3 separate regions of the Homo sapiens genome follow, and regions 1 and 2 are each linked to region 3. Evidence: fine-mapped expression QTL. A gene starts in region 3. Each other region holds a variant in brackets. All regions are shown on one strand. Distances are between the middles of the regions.

Region 1 (7,079 bases), 33 kb after region 3:
CAAAAATGGTCCAATATTGGTTCCATTGTACTCTGTAGTCATAACAACTCGTTACCTATTTCTAAGGCTATAGTAACTTCTAGCAGACTAATGGCCTCCAACTATTTTTCTTCTCTTTTTTTTTTTAAACAAATTTGTTTTTTTTAATGGAGGCAAAATTCACGTTACATGAAATTAACCACCTTTCTTTTTCTTTTTCTTTTCCATTTTAGTTTTTATCTTTTGTTTTGAATAGGTAATTACATTTATATGGCACAGTTATCAAAACAATATAACAAGATCTACATTGTGAGGACTCACTCCTATTCCTGTCCTTATCTACCCTATTCCATCTCACACCCCTTAGGTAACTGCTTTTATTAGTTTCTTATATATTCTTTCAGTGTTTCTTTATGCAGGTGCACACAAGTAGAAATGTATTTTTTATTCCTCCCTCCTTTCACACACACAAAGTAGCATACTCTGTATGTAATGCACCTTGCCTTTTCCATATAACTATATATATATAATTTATATTATATATATATATAATGCAGAATCTTTTCATGTTGGTGTATAGAGAGCTTCCTCATTTTAATCTGCATATCACAATATTCCATTGTGTGCATAAGGTCTATATAACTAGTCCTTTCCTGATGTATCCAACTTTTTTTGGATACATCATCAGTTACGAAAAAATAAGCACACACTCCCAGTATAGGTTTATTGACAAATTATGTACATAAAGTACCACCAATCCCTGTAAGCAAACTCAGTGTCTTACACTGATAGCTTAAAAATAATAAAAATGCAGCCTGGGCAACATGGCGAAGCCCTTTCTCGACCAAAAATACAAAAAATTAGCGCCTGTGGTCCCAGCTACTTGGGAGGCTGGGGTGGGAAGACGTCTTAAATCTGGGAAATGGAAGTTGCAGTGAGCCGAGATCACGCCACTGCACTCCAACCTGGGTGATAGAGAACCCATCTCAAAAAAAAAAAAGTAATAATAATAAAAATGGAGGTTATGATCATTTCCTTCTATACCCAATAGCTCATATTGTGCACCTTCAGGTGTACTTACTTGCCATTCTGAAATTTTGGATCAGTTAATGGAAGCTTCTAGCACAGGGTCTAATGGGTAGTTAATGCCAAGTCATAGTTAAGTGAACCTGAAGTTAAAACAAAGAGCTCCTGTTTCCTTTTCTCCACAGATCTCTTCTGAATTATCTACCGAATTGCTTCAGGGTTTTGAGTGAGGGTACTGTCACCTAAAATGCCTCCCTTTCTTAACATCTCACTTTAATTTTTCATCTGTAAAATGAGACTAATTATGCCTGCTGGGGAGACTTGATTGAAATGAGGCAATGTATGTGAAACCACTTTGTCCATTCCAAAGATACAGGGAATTATTTTTACTGCTATTAATTGTGATCCATGTATACTTCTATGCAAGAAATCTTTCTCATTTTCTAGAGGAAATGTTTTTAAATAGATATGGTAGGGGGATTTGTTGAAGGATTTGATACAAGAGCCAAAGGGATAGAGCTGCCTGAAGGTGATGAGCTTTAATCACAGTGATTTTTGTGACTTTCCTCTCTTTTTAGAGTCCCGATGCAGTCAAAGCCAAGTTGATCTCTCGGATGGCTAAAATGGGCCAGCCCATGCTGCCCATCCTTCCACCACAGCTGGATTCCAATGATTCAGAAATCGAAGTATGTCCCCCTGGCTGTATTAGAATGAATAGTACAGATGTCGCCATCATCTTTCTTTTCATTTGGTTGGAGTGATTGTTTTTTCTCTAAGGCAGAATCATTATTTAGAGAGCTAATATGCAAAATGATACAGATTGGTATTGGTACATGTGTTTCTACTGTGATTAGTACTTCCCTGAGAGATGGAAGCAATTTTGTAGATCTTTTACAAGAACTGGGCAGTTTTCAGTAGTTAATTTAGCCTTCTTTACTAGAATCTCTGTTGTTACTAAAGATCACTCTCTGGGCAGCATGATGCCCAATCCATAGCAGGTGTTCAATTCATATTTATTGAGCGAATGTTTAGATTCTTTTGGGAAATGTTGGTCTTCTCGCTGATGTTGCCTATCACTAAAGCTCCAACTAGTATGTCTTTTGACTTTGTATGTGGTATTCTTGTGTTTGTTTTCTATTTAGAAGTTCAATAATTTTATTGAATTCAAGTCTGTCAATTTTCTCCCCTTGTTATTTGCTTTTGACATTATGCTTAGAAAGCCTCTCCACTTTCAGATTATAAATATCACATGTATTTTTAAAGATATTGATCAATATTTTATAATTAGATCTAAATTTTTAATCCATTTGGAATTTGGTGTATGCTATAAAGTAACTTAATTTTAACTTAATTCTTCTCTAGTGGTTAGTTCTTTATTGAATATAATCGTCCTTTCTCAATTGAAGTGAAATATATAACTTAGACTGATTTTTAGTATTCTTTTACTTTGATAGAAAACAAGGAAAGGGCGATGGTCTTGAAAAAATTTTTTCTGGAATATACTTTATATTTTACATTTTTGTTTTATTTCTTGGAAAAGCTCTATGTAGATTTAACATCTTAAAGGAAGATAGGATTTCTGAGGCCTATTGTTATAGGATTATTTTTTTCTGGTCTGGAAATGCAGTGTAAATAAGAATATTTTTATTAAAAATTTTATGTGCTACTTATTCATTTTAGAATAATTTAAAATTATAGAAAAGAAACATATTGAACAAAAAGGGCATTCATCTTTATATATTGCTTTGTAACCTGATTTTTAAACCTAATGTTGTATCATAAACATTTACATTAACATAAATGATTTAAGTAAATAAAGTGGTTTAAAGGAAACCCAGTGTTCCATTATATCATTTTATTATAATTCCTTTCACTCTGTTATTAGACATTTAGGTTGGTTAAGAGCTGTAGAAATCTAAAACTGGGATGTTTTTCTAGAAGAGAATATAAGGGGACAAGGTGAAGTTCTAAAGTAAAAGAATGTCTGAAACTTTGGTCTTTGAACTATAGCATAGCAGATTACAGTCACTGTATATTGTGCCTCAAGATTTTCTGTTTCTTATATGAAGCAGGAGGTAGAATAACTTTGTTTAGAGTTATAGCTTTGATTTTATGAAAAGCTTTGGTTTTATGAAAATAAAGAATGTTGGAAAAACATCCTAAAACTATATTATCCAAAAACAGCATGTTAATCAGGTGCAGTGAATCCTACGTTATCTGATTTTCATTGAGTACCTTGAGGACTATGGGGATGATTTGTAAGAAGCGAAGAGGCTGGATTATTTCTTGCAAAAGACCACTTTTTTTGTGGGAATAGATTAGATTTGTCTTAAGGCAGTTACTGGCTTGGAAAATGATACATTCTGAAGAGTGGTTAGTTTAGCTGCTTCAGACAATAGAACATCAACCTCTGAGAATATTTGTGGAAATTAACTATATTTACTTATTCAATATGATTATAGGGAGAAGGACTCTTACTTTATTGCATAGCAGAGTGCTTTTTCTCCACAACCCACACCCTCAACTCTTGGCCTTCCGCTTACCTTTCCTTCCTCTTCTTTGCCTAGAAATCCTGTGTTGGAAGCAGGTTTAGGGCAGACAGTCAGCCTCAGTCTTCAATGAGGGACCCCGTACAGAGTAACCCAAACGCTTGTTCCTGTTTCAGGATGTGAACACTCTGCAAGGAGGTGGGCAGCCTGTGGTGACTCCGTCCGTCCAGCCCTCTCTTCA[T/G]CCGGCCCATCCAGCGTTACCACAGATGACCTCACAGGGTAAGGAACCTCTCTGAGGCTCTGTGGCCTTGAACTGGGTCAGCATGAAAATTATCGTCACTGTTCCTTAAACTGTTAGGCTGCATTGTTTCAGTACTGAGGACTAAAGTGTAAATGTAAGAGTGTGACGCTTGTCAGTTTGTCCCTGGGTAAGGCATTTTCATACCCAGAGATGGACCTGGCTGCTGGTTGTGACTTCTGCTGTGTTGCACTGTCAGTTTTGGAAATCTGCACTCAGCTATTGAGACATCTCCCTGGGTGTGTTCTGCACTTCCTGTCGGGTGGGATCCTAGGGCTGAGTCAGAAGCACATGAGAGCACCCAGTTTCCTTCCACTGGCTCATTCCTGAGATTGCAGTAGAGCTGAGTGTAGGGAGACTAGGCAAGGAAAATAGTTGAGTCTGAAGCATGATAGTATGTAAGGTGCTAGTCTAGACTCACACCAAGAAGCAAGGGTGGATAACAGTGAAAATGTCTCCCTTTATCTTAGCACCTCAGCCATCTGTTACTGGGCTCCAGGCACCTTCTGCTGCCTTAATGCAAGTGTCATCTCTCGATTCCCACTCAGCTGTATCTGGAAATGCCCAATCCTTTCAGGTAACATTTTATAACCGTATTAATTATATCCTATAATTTGCTGTGGTTCTAGTCAGTCTCTTTTCTTCTTCCTGTACATTTCATACAGTAGCAGTTCCCCAAAGTCAGAGTTTGTAATTTTTTTCCCTTCCTTGGTTACCACTTTCTCATCTCTAAACCAGGCAAAGGATAACCTACGTTCCAGTGTCATAAAGATTAAATGCAAGAACAAGTAGAGCCCCTAGTACAACGTAGTAAAGATGCAATCAATGTTTGTTTCCTTTTCTTTTCACACATATCCAGTTGAAGCGTGTATATTCGCGTTCTTCTGTATTCTTTTCTACTAAAAGTTGGCAGGCTAACATTCTGCAGTATATTCAGCAGAATGGTATGGTTTAAAAGTGGAACCATGTGGAAAATGTAGCTTGACTCTGCTATCTAGTAAACTTTTCTTAAAGAAGGCCTTTTTCCTGTTATCACAGAAAACAATGGCAGCAGCCTGTTTGCCAGGGGTAGCAGACCCTTTCTTCTGCCTCAACACACTTGGTGGATAAGGCATACTGTCACTGGGAACAGCTGCTCACTCCTTGTGATGCTTAATGGAGGTGTGGGAATGATGGTGGATAGGCTATGCCTCATTAACATGGGGAGTCTCGAAACTGGAAAAAGTCCCACTGTTGCCCTCTTTCTCCCCATCCCTCCTCTCCTCCATGGAGAATTACTATGCTGTAGACTAAGAATTTTTTTTAAGTGGATGCGTAGTTATATCTATCCCTGGAAATGAGCTAGACTTCCTTATTTCAAGGAAGAATTACCATCCTCATTAAAATAAAAGCTGCTGTTTATTAAGCGCTTACTATCTGTCAGGCCTGTAACTTACTAGCTTTTCAGAACTTTACCTATCTCACTTCATTTAGTCCACAGAACAGCCCTATGAAGTGATATTATTATCTTCCTCTTACAGTTGAGGTGACCGAGACTCAAAGGAACATGAGAGCTCTTGGTCTCGTGGATTAGCTTCAGAATCTAGCAGGGGAGAGGCATCCTTGGAAATTGGCAGATTTGGTTTGGAATCTCAGTGAGCACTTCTTCTTTAAACTCAATGGAAGCTAAGCAGAGTTTATTAATCTAAAAACTTCTTAGACAATAGGCCTGATAATGGGGAATGAATCCCTGCTTAATTATCTCACCAGATGACTGGGTAGTGACCTAAGATACACTTTCTTCAGTTTCTGGGTAGGATTTTAGTGACTGGTTTCCCCTGGGATACATAGATAACTCTCCTGCTGCAGTCCTTACCAACTGCCAAACCCAGATCTCACCCATCTCTAGCTTCAGTAAGTTTGAGTCTCCTCCCAGCTCATCCACTTTATTCCACCAAAGAAAAATGTGAACAAAAAAGAAAGACATGAATGTTTTATCAACCAGTGGTAACTCGTCAGTTTCTCAGCCCTATGCAGGTATGCAAGCCTACGCTTATCCCCAGGCATCTGCCGTCACCTCCCAGCTGCAGCCCGTTCGGCCTTTGTACCCAGCACCGCTCTCTCAGCCTCCCCATTTCCAAGGTAGGGAGTAATTCCCTCAGTTTCTCATCTTCCGCTCTTGCTGTGCTTTCCCTCTTCTTGCTCCTCCTTCATTTTCACACCAACAGCTCTCTACTCATTGTTTCTTCTCTTTTTTAACAGCTTTGTTGAGATATAATATGTATTCCACACATTCATTCATTTTAAATGTGCAATTCAAAAGTGTTTTAGTAAATTTGCAGAGTTGTGCATTCATCACTACAATCCTATTTTAGAACATTTCCGTCATCCCCCAATGTTTCCTTGTGTCCACATTCTGTGTTTTTTTCCTTGGATTTTCTCCCCTGGCCCTTTTAATTCCTCTGTTAGAGTAGCTAGAGTTTAGAGAAAATAGTAAAAGAGCAAAACATTGGAGGAAATTGGGAGAAAGTTGAATACTATAGGTGTTTAGTATCTCTAATGAAAGCTACTCTGTTAACATTTTTAAATTATGAAAATAAGAGACTTTTATAAAAAAGTCAAGCAGTACAAAAGGGTGTAAAGTGAAGTTACTGTCCTTCCCCTCCATAAACCCCCTGACCTTGGGAAACTGTTGTTAACAGTTACTTGGGTAACTTTTCAGATATTTTGTATGCATGTACAAATGTGAGTATCTAATGTAAAAAAATCAAACCAAGATAAAGTGTAAACTGCTATGATGGAATCCTGCCTTGTTCTGCTATTAGTCTTCTGTTTAGTAATCAGCTTTGGTATTAGGACAGTGGTAGGAAGAAGCCAGTATGTCCTGCAACATAATTTGTGGTTCTGGACTGGTCAGGATTTCCTGAATGCAGCCTTTATCTGGAAGCTCTGCCCTTCTCCATCTGGGATACGCTTTTTCATCCATCAAAACTGTCATCTCCCTCTGTGAAGCCTTCCCTGACTATTCTCTGTCCCTCTTTCCTCTCTTCCCACAAACACAACTGTGTACGCGTGTCACCAAAGAGTTAATCGTGCTTTTCTCTGTGCTACTTTTATACCTAGTATATGGTCCATTGTTTTGCACTTAATACACTCTCTTGTAATGATTTGTTTACATGTCAGTCTCCCAGCCAGACTGAGAGCTCACCAAGGGCAGAAGCCGTGTTTTGTTTACTGCTGTATTCCTGGTACCTGGTACAATGCTTGGCATACAGTTGGATGAACGGGAAAGTAATCTGAGCTGCCGG
Region 2 (7,079 bases), 42 kb before region 3:
GATTACTGATGCTTCACTTGCACTCTAAGCTGGAATCCAAACTCTGGTTTGTCTCTTGAAAATTTGACTCTATAAAACTGATCTGATTTTCTGTTTTTAAAAATAAATATATTTTTGGAAAAATGTGAGGCATCCTTAATGAAGTATAACAGTACTGTTAATTCCCAGACTTTAAAAGATAATTGCTACAAGATTAACATCATTCTTTCCATCTTTATTAAAAGACCCTAAGCACAGGACACTCTAGTTGATCCCTGCCACTTTCACTTAACCCATCTATTCAATAAGTATTTATTGAGTGTCTACCATGTGCCACTCAACAAAGATCCCTGCCCTTGTAGAAATTAAATTCTAGTGGATATTGTGTAAATCTGAAGAAATTGTAGGTACCCGATCTCTTTACAGAATGGCTTTGTAACTAGTTTGGGTATAATGTTGGGAGGACAGGCAATGGAGGAAAGAGGAATGCTTCTAACAGTTTTGCCATTATTCCAACTTTCCTTCCTTTCTCAACTTGCCTAAGTGTTTTTCCCAGAAAGAACCAGAGAGGCAGCTCGGAGGATAATTTTGAATCATGCCCTATTGTTCTGGGCATTAAAAAAAAATTTTTTTTAAAAATTTTTATTGTTTTATGTAGAGACAGGCATCTGTGTTGCCCAAGCTGGGCTTGAGCTCCTGACATTAAGCAGTCCTCTCAAAGTGCTGGGATTACTGTGCCTGGCCTGTTTTCACTAATTCAACACAGGGAATCACCAGCTGTGATCATAAGAGCCTCTTGAATCATCAGTTCTACGGAGACTCTTAGCAGGACTTTAGCCTTTTTGGGGTAGTTTAAGTCTGAGTAATACGAGGGGGAGAGGGACAGGTGTGGTGGCTCATGCCTGTAATCCCAGCACTTCGGGAGGCTGAGGCAGGAGGATTGCTTGAGTCCAGGAGTTAGACCAGCCTGGGCAACACAGGGAAACCCTGACTCTATAAAATTAAAAAAAAAAAAAAAAGAAGGGCCGGGCATGGTGGCTCATGCCTGTAATCCCAGCACTTTGGGAGGCTGAGGTGGGCAGATAACCTGAGGTCCAGAGTTTGAGACCAGCCTGACCAACATGGAGAAACCCTGTCTCTACTAAAAATACAAAATTAGCCGGGCGTGGTGGTGCATGCCTGCAATCCTAGCTACTCGGGAGGCTGAGGTGGAGGTGCTTGAACCCAGGAGGCAGAGGTTGCAGTGAGCTGAGATTGCACCATTGCACTCGAGTCTGGGCAACAAGGGCAAAACTCCGTCTCAAAAACAAAAACAACAACAAAAAAAGAAAAATACTAACCTATTAACCTTATCAAGAAGAGTGTTACTTTTCATTCTGAAAGCTGGAGTAACAACAATTGTAGATAATAAAAAAAATACTAAGGCTCGAATACCTATTTTGTGCTAGGTGCCTAATTCAAACAGGTATTATGGCCGGGCACAGTGGCTCACACCTTTCCCAATCCCAGCACTTTGGGAGGCCGAGACGGGCGGATCACCTGAGCTCAGGAGTTCAAGACTAGCCTGGCCAACATGGCAAAAACTCATCTCTACTAAAAATACAAAAATTAGCCAGACATGATGGTGTGTGCCTGTAGCCCCAGCTACTTGGGAGGCTGAGGCAGGAGAATCACTTGAACCCAGGAGATGGAGGTGGCAGTGAGCCGAGACTGTACCACTGCACTCCAGCCTAGGTGACGGAGTGAGACTCCATCTCTAAATAAGAAAACTAAGGCTTAGGGATCATTAGACTAACTTCCTAAGGTCATACTGCTAGTAGGTGATGGAACCAGAATCCAAACTCATTGACTCCTCTAAGTCCATGTTCATGACACTACACTCGGAAGAGACTAGGAATGGTGGTGATGGCAAGATGCCCACTGGGGGCCAGTGGGAAGAGCAAGTAACGTCAGCATTTTGGCATTACCAAAGGGACTGGCAGGGTCACTGTGCATCTCAAGGTTGGGCGGTGAACTTCTTATAGGCCCAGCTCAGAGCCTCTTGCCTAACAGCAGACACAGGGAAGGGATTATGATGTGACAAAAGTTGGCTTTTAAACTGAGGAATCCTCAGTATACTGAAATACTTGTGGCTTCATGAAGACCCTGTCTCCTGTGCAGAAGGTCACATGGATCTTCTGGCATGTACTAGGCATGTCATTTTAAGTCGAGTAGGGGGAGAGTGAGATGAAAACCTAAAAGGATCATACCACCTAAAATACGGACATCTTTTTTTTTTTTTTTTTTTGAGACGGAGTCTCGCTGTGTTGCCCAGGTGCAATCTTGGCTCACTGCAACCTCTGACTTCCGGGTTCACACCATTCTCCTGCCTCAGCCTCCCAAGTAGCTGGGACTACAGGCGCCCACCACCAGGCCTGGCTAATTTTTTAATATTTTTTTTAGTAGAGACGGGTTTCACCGTGTTAGCCAGGATGGTCTCGATCTCCTGACCTCATGATCCACCTGCCTCAGCCTCCCAAAGTGCTGGGATTACCAGGCGTGAGCCACCGCGCCCGGCCACAATATGGACATCTTAAAAACTGATGGTAATGGCCAGACTCTATGCAGACTATGAAAAGACTAGCTTATTGCATTATCACTCTGGGCAGAAAGACTTGCATAGAATCACAAAATCAAAATATTTATTTTGTTCTTTTTCATATGACACTGTTAAAACATTCCTACTACAGCAATACTGCTCTCCAGGAGCTTACAATCTAAAACAGTCAACATTAATTGTAGACCCAGTAATTAAGGCATTATATCAAATGCAGACTTTGTATCTTTTTTTTTTTTTTGAGACGGAGTTTTGCTCTTGTCGCCCAGGCTGGAGTGCAATGGCGCCATCTTGGCTCACTGCAACCTCCGCCTCCTGGGTTCAAGCGATTCTCCTGCCTCAGCCTCCCGAGTAGCTGGGATTACAGGCATGCACCACCACGCCCAGCTAATTTTTGTATTTTTAGTAGAGATGGGGTTTCACCACATTGGCCAGGCTGGTCTCAAACTCCTGACCTCAGGTGATCTGCACCCCCGCTTGGCCTCCCAAAGTGTGTGAGCCACTGTGCCCAGCCCAGAGTTTCTATCTTTTGATGTATCTTTTGAAGGAGCAGCTGGAGAGGGCAGGATCAAAATTAAATCACATGAAAGTGTACTCCCCTCCGCCTGCTCCTTATAAGGAACCCCTTATGACTAGAACCCAAGACCAGTACCCACAGCCTGAAAGGGAATTTCAGACAACCCTACCATAGAAGTAGTGAAGAAACCTTAATTTCTAATCTCCTAGTGGATACAGTGAGGATTCCATTTGTGGGCAATGGGGATGCTGGGAGTTCCTCCCTCACAGACTAGAGACGGCACCTAAGATTCTGTAACTCTGGGAAGGGTACCAGCCTTATAGAAATTCCAGTGGG[T/G]CAACTGCCTCTTGAAGCATGCTTAAAGTCTCTTAACAGGTTTATAAATGCCAATTTCTGGTTGGTATTATATCCACAGCATAGCACTGTCTACTGCATCAGGAGGGCTATGGAGACTTAATATACTAGACATGCGATTAAAAAAACTGAAAGAAAAGGGAAAGGACAACAGAGTAAGGGGGCCAAAGAAATGGTGATGCAGTCTTCTAATAGATGTGAATGGGGAAGGAAGAAAAGAGAAGTTTAGATCCAAAATGAACAAAGAAGTCAAGCATTAAATTCCAAATGAACAGGTATACAGAAATGAAAAGTTAATGAAATCATTGTATTATCACAATCCAAGAGCTCAAGATGGAATTTAAGCTTTTTCTCCTTCACTAGCTTCATCCTTTGGCAGCCAGTCTAAGAATCTCTGAAATTCAGGTTTTTCAGGAGATTATCTCTATCCTGAATACCTGAAGACCTAATCTAAACTGTTATTTCTTTCTGTGAATTTCAAAGTCATAGCATTTTGTCTTAACTGGCCTTGAATTTTCTTTTTTTCTGAGACAGGGTCTTGCTTTGTCACCCGGGCTGAGTGCAGTGGCGCAATCATGGCTTACTGCAGCCTCGACCTCCAGGGCTAAAGCAATCCTCCTGCCTCAGCCTCCCAAATAGCCAGGACTATAGGTATGCACCACCATGCCTGGCTAATTTTTGATTTTTTATAGAGATAGGATCTCACTATGTTGTCCAGGCTGGTCTCGAACTTCTGGACACAAGCCATCCTCCCACCTTGGCCTCCCAAAGTGTTGGGATTACAGGCATGAGCCATTGGGTCTAGCTGGCCTTACTGATTAGGTTTTGTTGCTGGGAGGGTATTCTATAGCAGCTCATGCTGAGATTTCTAGAGAGCACCAATGTCACTACTAACTATTGATTCCTATTTATTTCTCATGGTTTTATGACTCCTTGGCTTTAGACAACAGGCTGTATTATACCTTTGTGTTGGACTTCGTCAGTACCTGTCATTCACCCTGCTCATGTTAAGTATCATCATTACAAAGTGATGGAATGAGAGAAAAGCACAAAGCTCTAAATGTTGGTTCTTGGATTTTAACCTCAATCCAGTAGGCTCATAACCCTCTCTTGGTTCAAAGCCATACAAGTCCACATTCCTTGCTCTCCAATATTTAACTGGCACCCACAGAGAAAGTACAAACTTCAAAACCACAACACAGGCCAACAGGATAGCTGTGTTTTGTTTCCTCTGCCCTGAGGCACAACTGGATCTAGCACCAAGGAGGGCAGGATTTAACAGACCAGCACAAGACAAATCAATTTAAAGAGGTAGTTTGAACCAGGAATAAGACTGCAGTGTAGACTACAACTGAACAGAATACAAATCCAATGTGGTTCTTCACTGAGAACAGGGGTTTTGGCCACTTGTAATGTAATTAAACCCCCACGAATAACAAAGATGATTATATGGAGGATGAGGATCTGCTTGGTATAAGCACAGTTGTTGGAGCCTGAGGAAAACCTGGCCATCAACAAACCACAGCCTGAGTCTTTCCAAAGAGAAAGCTGGGCTTTTGCCCTTCTGGCCCATGACTGGTAGATTTACACTGCAGATCAAAGGTCTCTCTCAACAATCAAACTACTTCCAAGAAACCATAGACCTTTAAAAATAAGGACTAGTGATTTCATACAGGCTAGTAAAAATACTTTGGCTATAGCCCTTCACACATGTGTGCTTGGGTACACATACACACAGGTGGAGCTCAATAAATGTGGAATGATTAGGTATTGATCAGCAGTATTTACTACGTGAGTTAAGTCCAGACACACCATCTACCAATCAGCAATTCAAATTTCCATGCCCAATACCAGGCAGCCAACCCACCAGGCAATATTTCCTTAGCTTAAAGCACAGATTCTCAAAAGTGTGGTCCCTTGTAACATCAGCAGGAACTCAGAAGTGCCACTTTGGGGGCTTTTGGGTTGAGGCCCAGCAATTAGTGTTTTAACAAGCCCTACAGGTGATTCTGATGCACGCTAAAGCTTGAAAATCACAGTTTTAGAGGCAGACATGCGAAAACATTATAATGGAAAAATTAATTCAAACTCTCTTGCTTCACTTCAGCTGGGACAAACCAAGGTATCAAGACAAAGTAAACTGTGAATGGTTTTATTTAAAAATATCTATTTCTATTTTCTCAAATTGATTGTCATTTTTTGATTGGCAAGTTCATGCTAATCAAAGTGTTAAGTGGGAATGCAAGTCGATGCATCAGCCATCCAAGAATACACACTCTGCAAGTTCTAAGCCTGTATTTAGTCTCAAACCACCGCTCTGCACACTACAAAGATTTTGGTATAACGTATCACATCTAGAGAAAGGCACAATGTATTTCCCACTCATTGAATCCAAAAGCTGGACCTTCTTTTCTTTTTTTTTGAGATGGAGTTTCACTCTTGTCACCCAGGCTGGAGTGCAATGGCGCCATCTTGGCTCACTGCAACCTCCGCCTCCTAGGTTCAAGTGATTCTCCTGCCTCAGCCTTCTGAGTAGCTGGGATTACAGGCGCCCACCACCATGCCCGGCTAATTTTTGTATTTTTAGTAGAGACGGGGTTTCCCCATGTTGGCCAGACTGGTCTCGAACTCCTGTCCTCAGGTGATCCAGCCTGCCTTGGCCCCCCAAAGTGCTGGGATTACAGGCATGGGCCACTGTGTCCGGCCCTGGACCTTATTTTCTAATGTTAAGTTTGAGTTCTGGGTTTAGTTGGGCAAGAATTTCCCTCAGCTGCCATCAATCCTGGCTGAAGTTAACCCCTTTCCATCACTGACCCAGGGGAAAAAACCACCAAATTTACTTACTATCTGTTAAAAATTCAAAAAGGAAGCAGATGATCAAGTCATTGAACAAAAAGCTACATGGATTAGACAAGAACATATAACTTGGCTCTAAGATGATGGAGAAGGAAAAGACATCTCATGGGTGGCTTCTCCTTAAGAGAAATGGGAATCTCAGCTTATTAGAAAAAACAATTTGGGAGGTTACTACTTTAGTTCAGAGACTGTAAACTAAACCTCTGTTGAGCAGGGGTGTGTGTGTGTGTGTGTGTGTGTGTGTGTGTACGTGCACAAAGAGGAGCAAGAAGGGATGATTGGAGCAGGAATCACGTCTTCAAGTCTTCAACAACTTCCCACTGCAATCGATAAGGCCACGCCATAGAGTTTGATGTCAATGGCAATGCTCTGTGATATCCACTACCACTGCCTTCTTCCAGCTGAAGAGGAAGTATCCTGTACCGGCCCCTGCTGCTACTGCAATGCAGAGGTACCCGTTGTAGGTCATGAAGATGAGCATGAGGAAGTAGCTTATGACCACCTGGATGATGTGCAGCACTGTTTGCAGGAGGTGAGGAAAGCTCAGCATCTGTTGCCTGGAGAGTAAACAGGGACACAACAATCAGGGACTCCTAGGAGTTCTGCAGATCAGGAGAAAGAGGGAAGAGTTCTTGCCATGAGCTCAGCTGGAACTGGACAGCCACTCTGGCAACTCATGGGTACTTGAATGTTCTTTGATTGGTCCATGGAAATGAAACAGCACAGGGCTGTCAGGCTTATAAACATTGGCCAGATATGGCTGTGGTTCCTCCAGTA
Region 3 (7,079 bases):
AGTAACTTGTCTATGGCCTATACAACTAATAAGTGGCAAAGCAATTTGGCTCCAGAGCTCAAGTACTTAACTACTGTACTACATAGACTCTCTAGTAGTTATTTCTAAAACACCACACTGAATGCTTTCGAAAGACCAGATAAAAGTGAGCACACAAGGCCGGGTGCGTTGGCCCACGCCTCTAATCCTAGCACTTTGGGAGGCCAAGGCGGGTGGATCACCTGAGGTCGGGAGTTCCAGACCAGCCTGACCAACATGGAGAAACCCCGTCTCTACTAAAAATACAAAATTAGCCGGGCATGGTGGCACATGCCTGTAATCCCAGCTACTCGGGAGGGTGAGGCTGGAGAATCGCTTGAACCCGGGAGGTGGAGGTTGTGGTGAGCCGAGATTGTGCCATTGCATTCAAGCCTGGGCAACAAGAGCGAAACTCTGTCTCAAAAAAAAAAAAAAAAGTGAGCATACAGATAACACATAAACTTGCTGTTAGGTGTGGGAGACAACAGAAAAGTCTGGAAGGACATTTCATAAACACCTAGAAAGATTCTGCAGTGAGACTGCTTTGCAAGTGACTTTAAGTATTCATTCCATGTTAAAAATACCATAGATAACGTAGGCCAGGGGCTAGCAAGCTCTTTCTATAAAGGGCCAAAAGTAAACATTTTAGATGTTGCAGGCCATGTGGTTTCTGTTGCAATCACAAATATTCAATTCTGCCTTGGAGGGTAAGAGGAGTCATAGACAATACATAAACAAATGAGAAAGGCTGTGTTCTAATAAAGCTTTACTTATAAAAACAGGCAACAGGGTCCTACACTCCAAGAAAAGGCTGAGGCCTTATGTTAAAAGAATGGCAAAAGAATGTTTATGTGTTCGTTAAAATGTTATGCATATAACTATTATCTGTATGATTCCCTGCTTTAACTTACTTCTTCAGTTAACCAACTAATGGCCCTAAGTCTGCTTTCAGTGACTGAGTGAACGGAATGTTATAGATCCCCTAGAACCTGCATTTAATTCATATTCCTATCATTATGCCTGATATAACTTGGTTATAACTTTAAACTACTAATTTTAAAATGCATGCATCATTACAGATTAGTATGGGTATACTCGTATATAAAGACTGTCATCTCTGTTGCAAAATTGCTGATAATTTGAAAATAATTATTAAAATTGCTGCTTCCCTGAGGGAGTAAGGGGAGTGGAGGGTGGAGAAAAAAAATTGCTGCTTCCTGGCCAATCTTCTGGGGGTTGACAATATATTTTATGAGTATTCTAAAAGTTGTATACTTAAGCAAAACAAATAAACAAAAATGCTTACTTTAAACTTGAGATCAAGGTTGTGCCTTACTTACCTTTGTATCCCCAGCAGTTACTCAGTAGAAGTCCAGGTCTAATCCACTCATTTTACAGTGCTTAGGGAGCCTGGCCCAAACTCAGAGTGAGTTATAAGGGCTGGGACAGGAATTCAGATTTCCTGATTCCTAGTCCAGTATTACCAATCTGAAGATACACGAATTTAGGAAGACAGTGGCTTTCTTTTTTTTTTTTTTTAGGTGCACCCAGTCCTGCAGTTCAAAGCCTGGCAAGACTCACCATCATCTTCCTCCTCCTCATACTGCTAATGAGAATCAGCAGCTGTGTTTCTACAGTGATAATCTGCGTATGCATGTTCGTGATGTTCCAATCACCAAAAAGGCTATTGATTTTAGGATTCCTGAGTACCTACAAAAGCTACTTAAACATCCAGGATAAAATCAGCTCCACCCAAGAATACAAGATAAGAGTTCAAATATTCCCTTGGCCATTTTTTTTTTTTAAAGAAAAGGCTGGAAGGACATGTCATAAACACCTAGAAAGATTCTGCAGTGAGACTGCTTTGCAAGTGACTTTAAGTATTCATTCCATGTTAAAAATACCATAGATAATGTAAGCCAGGGGCTAGCAAGCTCTTTCTGTTAAACATTTAGATGTTTCAGTGCTGCAATCACAGTGACCGGTGTTGGGGAGAGGGATTAGAAAGTGCCATGGTACTTAATCCAGTTACTCCCCCAACACCTCCAAGAGGTAGCCAAGTTCACACACTAAACAGAGCTACTGCAACAGTTCTAGTGCTAGTCCTTAGATTCTAGTTCCAGTTCCGGTTCTAGTGCTTAGATTCCAGTTGCATCATTCCAACTGTGAGCCTTCGCTGCTTTAACATCTTTGCCAGGAGGTGCAAAGTTCTCTGGGAGGGAGCTACCAATCATTTCATTTCAATTTCATACTGACAGATTGAAACATTCACGTAAGGGACACCTGTAGTACCAACCTGACTGTGAGGGGAAGCCCAAGAACTCCAGTGAGTCTGTGGACGCTACGCTGGGACACTATCTCCTTAGCCACACCTTGTCTAAGCCAGGACTACCCCAGGATTGTTTCGAGAATGATACCAGGTTAACCAAAGAAATACTTATGTAAGATACAGATAGGGTGGAAACTGGAGGCAGAGGAGTCCGCCACAATTGATGTTGATTTAGGGCTGTCGCAGGAAGACCCAGGGAAACCCACGCCAAAGTTGGGGTGGGGATGTGTCTGCCTCCAAAGTATCCTCCTTTCCATCACCCACCGCCAGAATATCTTAGCTCTTCTGCACCTCATCCGCGTAGAATACAGGTGGACTCTAGAAAGGGGACTTTCCTCGAGGTGTATGCTACAGTCTTTCAATAGTCACTCTGTAAGGGCACACAGTGCTTAAGGGCTGATAAGGTTCTTGTTCACCCACTAGCTCACTATGTCCTGAATCAAAGGACGAGGAATCCAGTCTCAGTCTGCCCTTTACTCTTTGTGACCTCGGACTAGTCACCCGGGTGCTTAGTTCCTTCGTCTCCCTATCTGTAAATTCTGAGATTACGAGGAGGCCGGGATTGAAATCCATGGCCTCTGAGCTCTAAAATCTTCTGGACCAGCAGGCACATGGAAGAACTGGACAAATGGCCGGTTGCATACACGGGGAAACTGAGGCACCGAGCACCCCGGCCCAAGGTCACTCTGGCTATGCCACTGCAGGGGCCGGGCCGAAGCCCCAGTCTTTAACCCTCCAGTCCCGAGCTCTTTCTCCTTCCGCGGAGCTGAGGAAAGCGGCGAGGAAGGTCCTTGTCCCGCTGGGAAAAGGACGGTACCCATGCACAGGGGTGCGAAAGAGGGGCCGAGAGAAGCCTTACCTTTCCAGGTCAAGTCCAGCCACTAGCACCTCTCTCTCCGAATCTTAACCCGTCACCCCCTCACGACTCTTCGAACGGCCCCTCCACTTCTACCCGGCTCGACGTGTCCACCACCGCCACCGAGGCCGAGGATTTCCCGCCCCCTCCCGCCCCCTAGCATTACCGACCAATCCCTGCAAGGGGCTGTGAAGCTCCGCCCCGCTGCGGGCTGGAGAGGCCTGACGTCACTCGGCGCTCGTGCCCGCGCGAGCCTCTCATTTGCCTTTGCCCCACCTTCTCCAGAGCCCAGTCTACTTTCGGTCCAGAGACCGTGCTGGAGTTCGCCCTGCCGGAAAGCAGCACGCCGCCGCGGCATTTTACGACGTCGGCGGTGACAGGCCCTGGGACTCTGGGAATACCCAGCTTCCTCCCCGCAACCCGGTGAAAGCCAACGCAATGTTCGGTGCGGGGGACGAGGACGACACCGATTTCCTCTCGCCGAGCGGCGGGTGAGTGACTGAGAAGTATGCGCTGGAGGGCGTGGCTGAGAGATACCGGCGGATTGTTGGAGGGGGGTCGATCTCTTCTCAGGCCTTTTCCCAACTTCCGGGGGGAGACCCTTGCCACATTCCGGTGCTCTACACCTCTCAGAATCTGGGCAGAACTTGCAACTGTGCTGACCCTGCCGATCTGAGGTTCGGGACCCGGCATCTCTCTTGGCGGGAAGATAGCCCTGGGTTTGCCTTTTGCATTCTGGGTCACAATTTCTCCGGTGAAATGGGAATGATTGCTGATGAGACTTCCTGCCTCAGAATTTTTATAGGAGTCAGCTGGGGCTGATGTGAGACTTCTTTTCTCCATGGAGAAGGCGAAGACACTTTAGAACCAGGCCTTGGTGGGTCAGCTCTAGCATTCTTCAAGGCCCAGCTCGGATGTCACGTTTTGGATGCTTTTCCTTCTGCAACCTCAGGCAGAATGAATTGCTTTCTCTTCCTTATTCCTGCAGCTAGGTGTGTTTGCCTCTATTCTTATACCCCGCACCTATTAGATTATGAGTCCTCACCGGACAGGGACTGCTTATGGTGTTCATTTCTGTCTAGCATGCAGCATGGTACCTAGCACATAGTGAGTGCTCAGGAAGTGGCTGTTGAATGAATAATAGCTGCGAAATTGCACTTTGTAAAGCTTAAAGCTTAAAACCAACGTAACAGACTTCTGTCATTCTCCAGTTTCCCCAAGCATTATATTAATATATACCAGCCTGGAATAGAAATCTTTAAAGAGAGGAAGGGTTTTGTCTCTTTTAGTAGTCAGTTTAGCCTTTTCCATTGTGTTGTGCCAGTGGACAGCTTGACTTCCTCCAAACTTGTGAGCTACCAAGCTCTGATCATTGCAGAGCTTTTCTTTGAACATATGCTTAACAAATTTTGTGCGTGCTGAAGAATGTACTGGAAAAATGACAAATGCACCACATATGCCCCTTATTCTGCTAAATGCTAAGAGGTTACAAAAATGATTAAACTGCTGTGCCTGCCCTTAAGTTGCTTCCAGATCTGTTGGGCCATGTGGTTTCTATTGCAACCACAAATACTCAGTTCTGCCTTGTAGGGTGAGAGTAGTCATAGACAATACATAAACAAATGAGTTAATAGATGAATGACCATAAAATGACACTGGCCTTCTTTTGTCCTTAAGTAGGAATTTTTGATTTACACTGACTAGCTCTATATTACCTACCTTTTAGTCTTTTTCACTCTCACCACTCTGTTCCCTTCCTACCCCGTCTTTAGATGGCCTGCATTCACTTAGTTCCACTTTGAGTTCTTTCCGTTTCTCAGTTATTTTACAGTTAAGCTGTGCTTTTGTTCCTTTTTTCCCTATTCCACTTTAAATTCGCATTCTTCACTATGTGAAAGTATTTGGGAGAAGTCTGTAATGTTAGGGCTCCCAATTTTCATGCAACAATCAGTCCAAGCTGACTGAAAATTATGGGATAGGTAATGACAGCCATGTGCTCTTTTCCAGATTCCTGGCCAGAGATAAATTCTTGGTGGCTCAACTATTCTTTTTTCCTGAGCAGGCTTCTCAAGGATCTGAGACACTTGAATTCTAGGCATGTGACTGTGCTCCTAGACATAGACAACAGCTAATTTGATGGTAAAAGACATACTGAGGAAAGTTATAGTTTATTTTTGTTCCCCACAGTTATCAGGAAAACCAAATCAAATTTAACACTGAGAATACAGAAAGTTTCACCACAATTCTCTGATTTAGCTATTCCTTTTTTGGTTTTCTCTAAGGAAGTAGAACATATGACAGTGAATACTGCAGCTACTTTTCACTTCCTCTTTTATAGCCATATATTACTGTAAGTATACTTGCTTAAGTTCCAAGTCTCTTGATTTAAACACATGATTTGCTTGATTTCATGAAGGATATTCAAGCCTAATAGAAGTAGGAGTATCTGATAATCTGCCTTCTGAGTTTCTAGGCCTCTTAGAGTTTACTATTAATCTAGAAGTAGTAATCAGGAGCCTTGTTTTTGTTTGTTAGTTTGTTTTAGCCCATTCCTCACCGTTGTGGGAAGTAATAGTAATGAACTAATAGTACTTGGCTTCAGCTAATCCAGATAGGAATAAGGCACAGTTTCTGCCCCTAAGAAACTTTTATTTTAGTAGTAGAATAAAATCAATCCAGGAATAATAATCACAAAGCATTTTTAAGGGGCCAATTATGTATATATTTGTTTTAGATTATAAAGGTATGTGTAGGCAGATCCGATTAGCATAGTAATGATAAATCACCAGTCTAAAGATGGTAGAAAGATAAATTAACCGATCATCAGAAAGCATTTTGAGTTCTGTAAAAGATAGGAAAAAGCCTAGATTCAAATGTTGATTCTATCCCCAGTTAGGAATGTGACTTTGGACAGATTATCTTCCATCCTTGTCCCTCCATACCCCAACCTATTCAATAATGAGGTTTGACCTAGATAAACTTTGAGACCTTTGCCAGTTCTGTAGTTTTAATGTTAATGCTAATACCAGTTTATGGTTGCAGGTCAACTTCCGTGTCAATCAAGCATGCTTTCACCCTTGCAGGGGTATCTGAGTTGAACCACATTTTGAGATAATAGGATGTGTTCACAAGTATATAAATACGTACTCTGTGCTTACTTAATGCCATACACTGTTCTAAGAAATACATAGACATTATTGTATTTATTCCTCCCTTCTACTCTATGAAATAATTTTACCTACTATGCCCATTTTACAAATGAGAAATGTATATATATATATATATATATATATATATATATATAATTGTATTTACTCCTCTCTATGAGGTACTATTAATTATTATATCCGTTTTACAAATGGGAAAGGCTCAGAGAGGTAAATTGCCCAAGATCATGCAGCTAGAAAGTAATAGAGCCTGGATCTGAAATCAGGTAGGCAGATTCTACCAGACCTGCCTATGTGCTATTGTTGTTATTATTGAAATGGATGTTTGATGTCAGTTTGTTTAAAAAAGTATTAATACTTTACCAACAAAAAGAATCTCTGTTTATTAAAATACATTGATACAGTATAAATGCATGTGTTTTTGTTTTTGATGAGAAAGAAAATATAAAACTGAGGTGAGGTGAGGTCCTTGGCGACTAAATGCATTGTCTAACATTTTTTTTTAATGTAGTTAATTCTGTCATGACTTTTCCTATGAATTATAAATATAGATTCAAGTCCAGAGTTAGCAAGCTCATTCTTGCCAACATAGGGAGATTGTGTACATTTGAGAGTTCCTTAGTAGTGGAAAAATCTAAAAATTTATTTATTTTTGTTTATTTATTTATTTTTTTGAGACAGGGTTTTTCTCTGTTGCCCAGGCTGGAGT

What was found.
Region 1: its variant is fine-mapped to the expression of SLC31A1 in whole blood (TOPMed, PIP above 0.99). The same link has a PIP of 0.9 or more in macrophages and macrophages after interferon gamma.
Region 2: its variant is fine-mapped to the expression of SLC31A1 in whole blood (INTERVAL, PIP above 0.99). The same link has a PIP of 0.9 or more in T cells and monocytes.

Annotation. Positions count from the first base shown.
Region 1 is chr9:113,185,083-113,192,161 of GRCh38, reverse strand. It overlaps FKBP15 (FKBP prolyl isomerase family member 15), which reads left to right. Exons shown (of 28, transcript NM_015258.2): 12 at 1,584-1,691; 13 at 3,671-3,773; 14 at 4,263-4,369; 15 at 5,799-5,913. Among named protein-coding and RNA genes, the nearest start is that of FKBP15, 33 kb to the left of the region's middle. RefSeq lists an enhancer at 3,428-4,627. The variant T/G (reference allele first, on the strand shown) is at 3,736.
Region 2 is chr9:113,260,052-113,267,130 of GRCh38, reverse strand. SLC31A1 (solute carrier family 31 member 1) reads right to left here. Exons shown (of 5, transcript NM_001859.4): 5 at 2,639-6,859. The coding sequence ends at 6,658. It overlaps CDC26 (cell division cycle 26), which reads left to right. Exons shown (of 4, transcript NM_139286.4): 4 at 1-139. Among named protein-coding and RNA genes, the nearest start is that of CDC26, 12 kb to the left of the region's middle. The variant T/G (reference allele first, on the strand shown) is at 3,429.
Region 3 is chr9:113,217,806-113,224,884 of GRCh38, reverse strand. SLC31A1 (solute carrier family 31 member 1) reads right to left here and starts at 3,341. Exons shown (of 5, transcript NM_001859.4): 1 at 3,207-3,341. It overlaps FKBP15 (FKBP prolyl isomerase family member 15), which reads left to right and starts at 3,608. Exons shown (of 28, transcript NM_015258.2): 1 at 3,608-3,694. The coding sequence starts at 3,642. RefSeq lists enhancers at 2,430-2,619, 3,460-3,569, 3,680-3,809.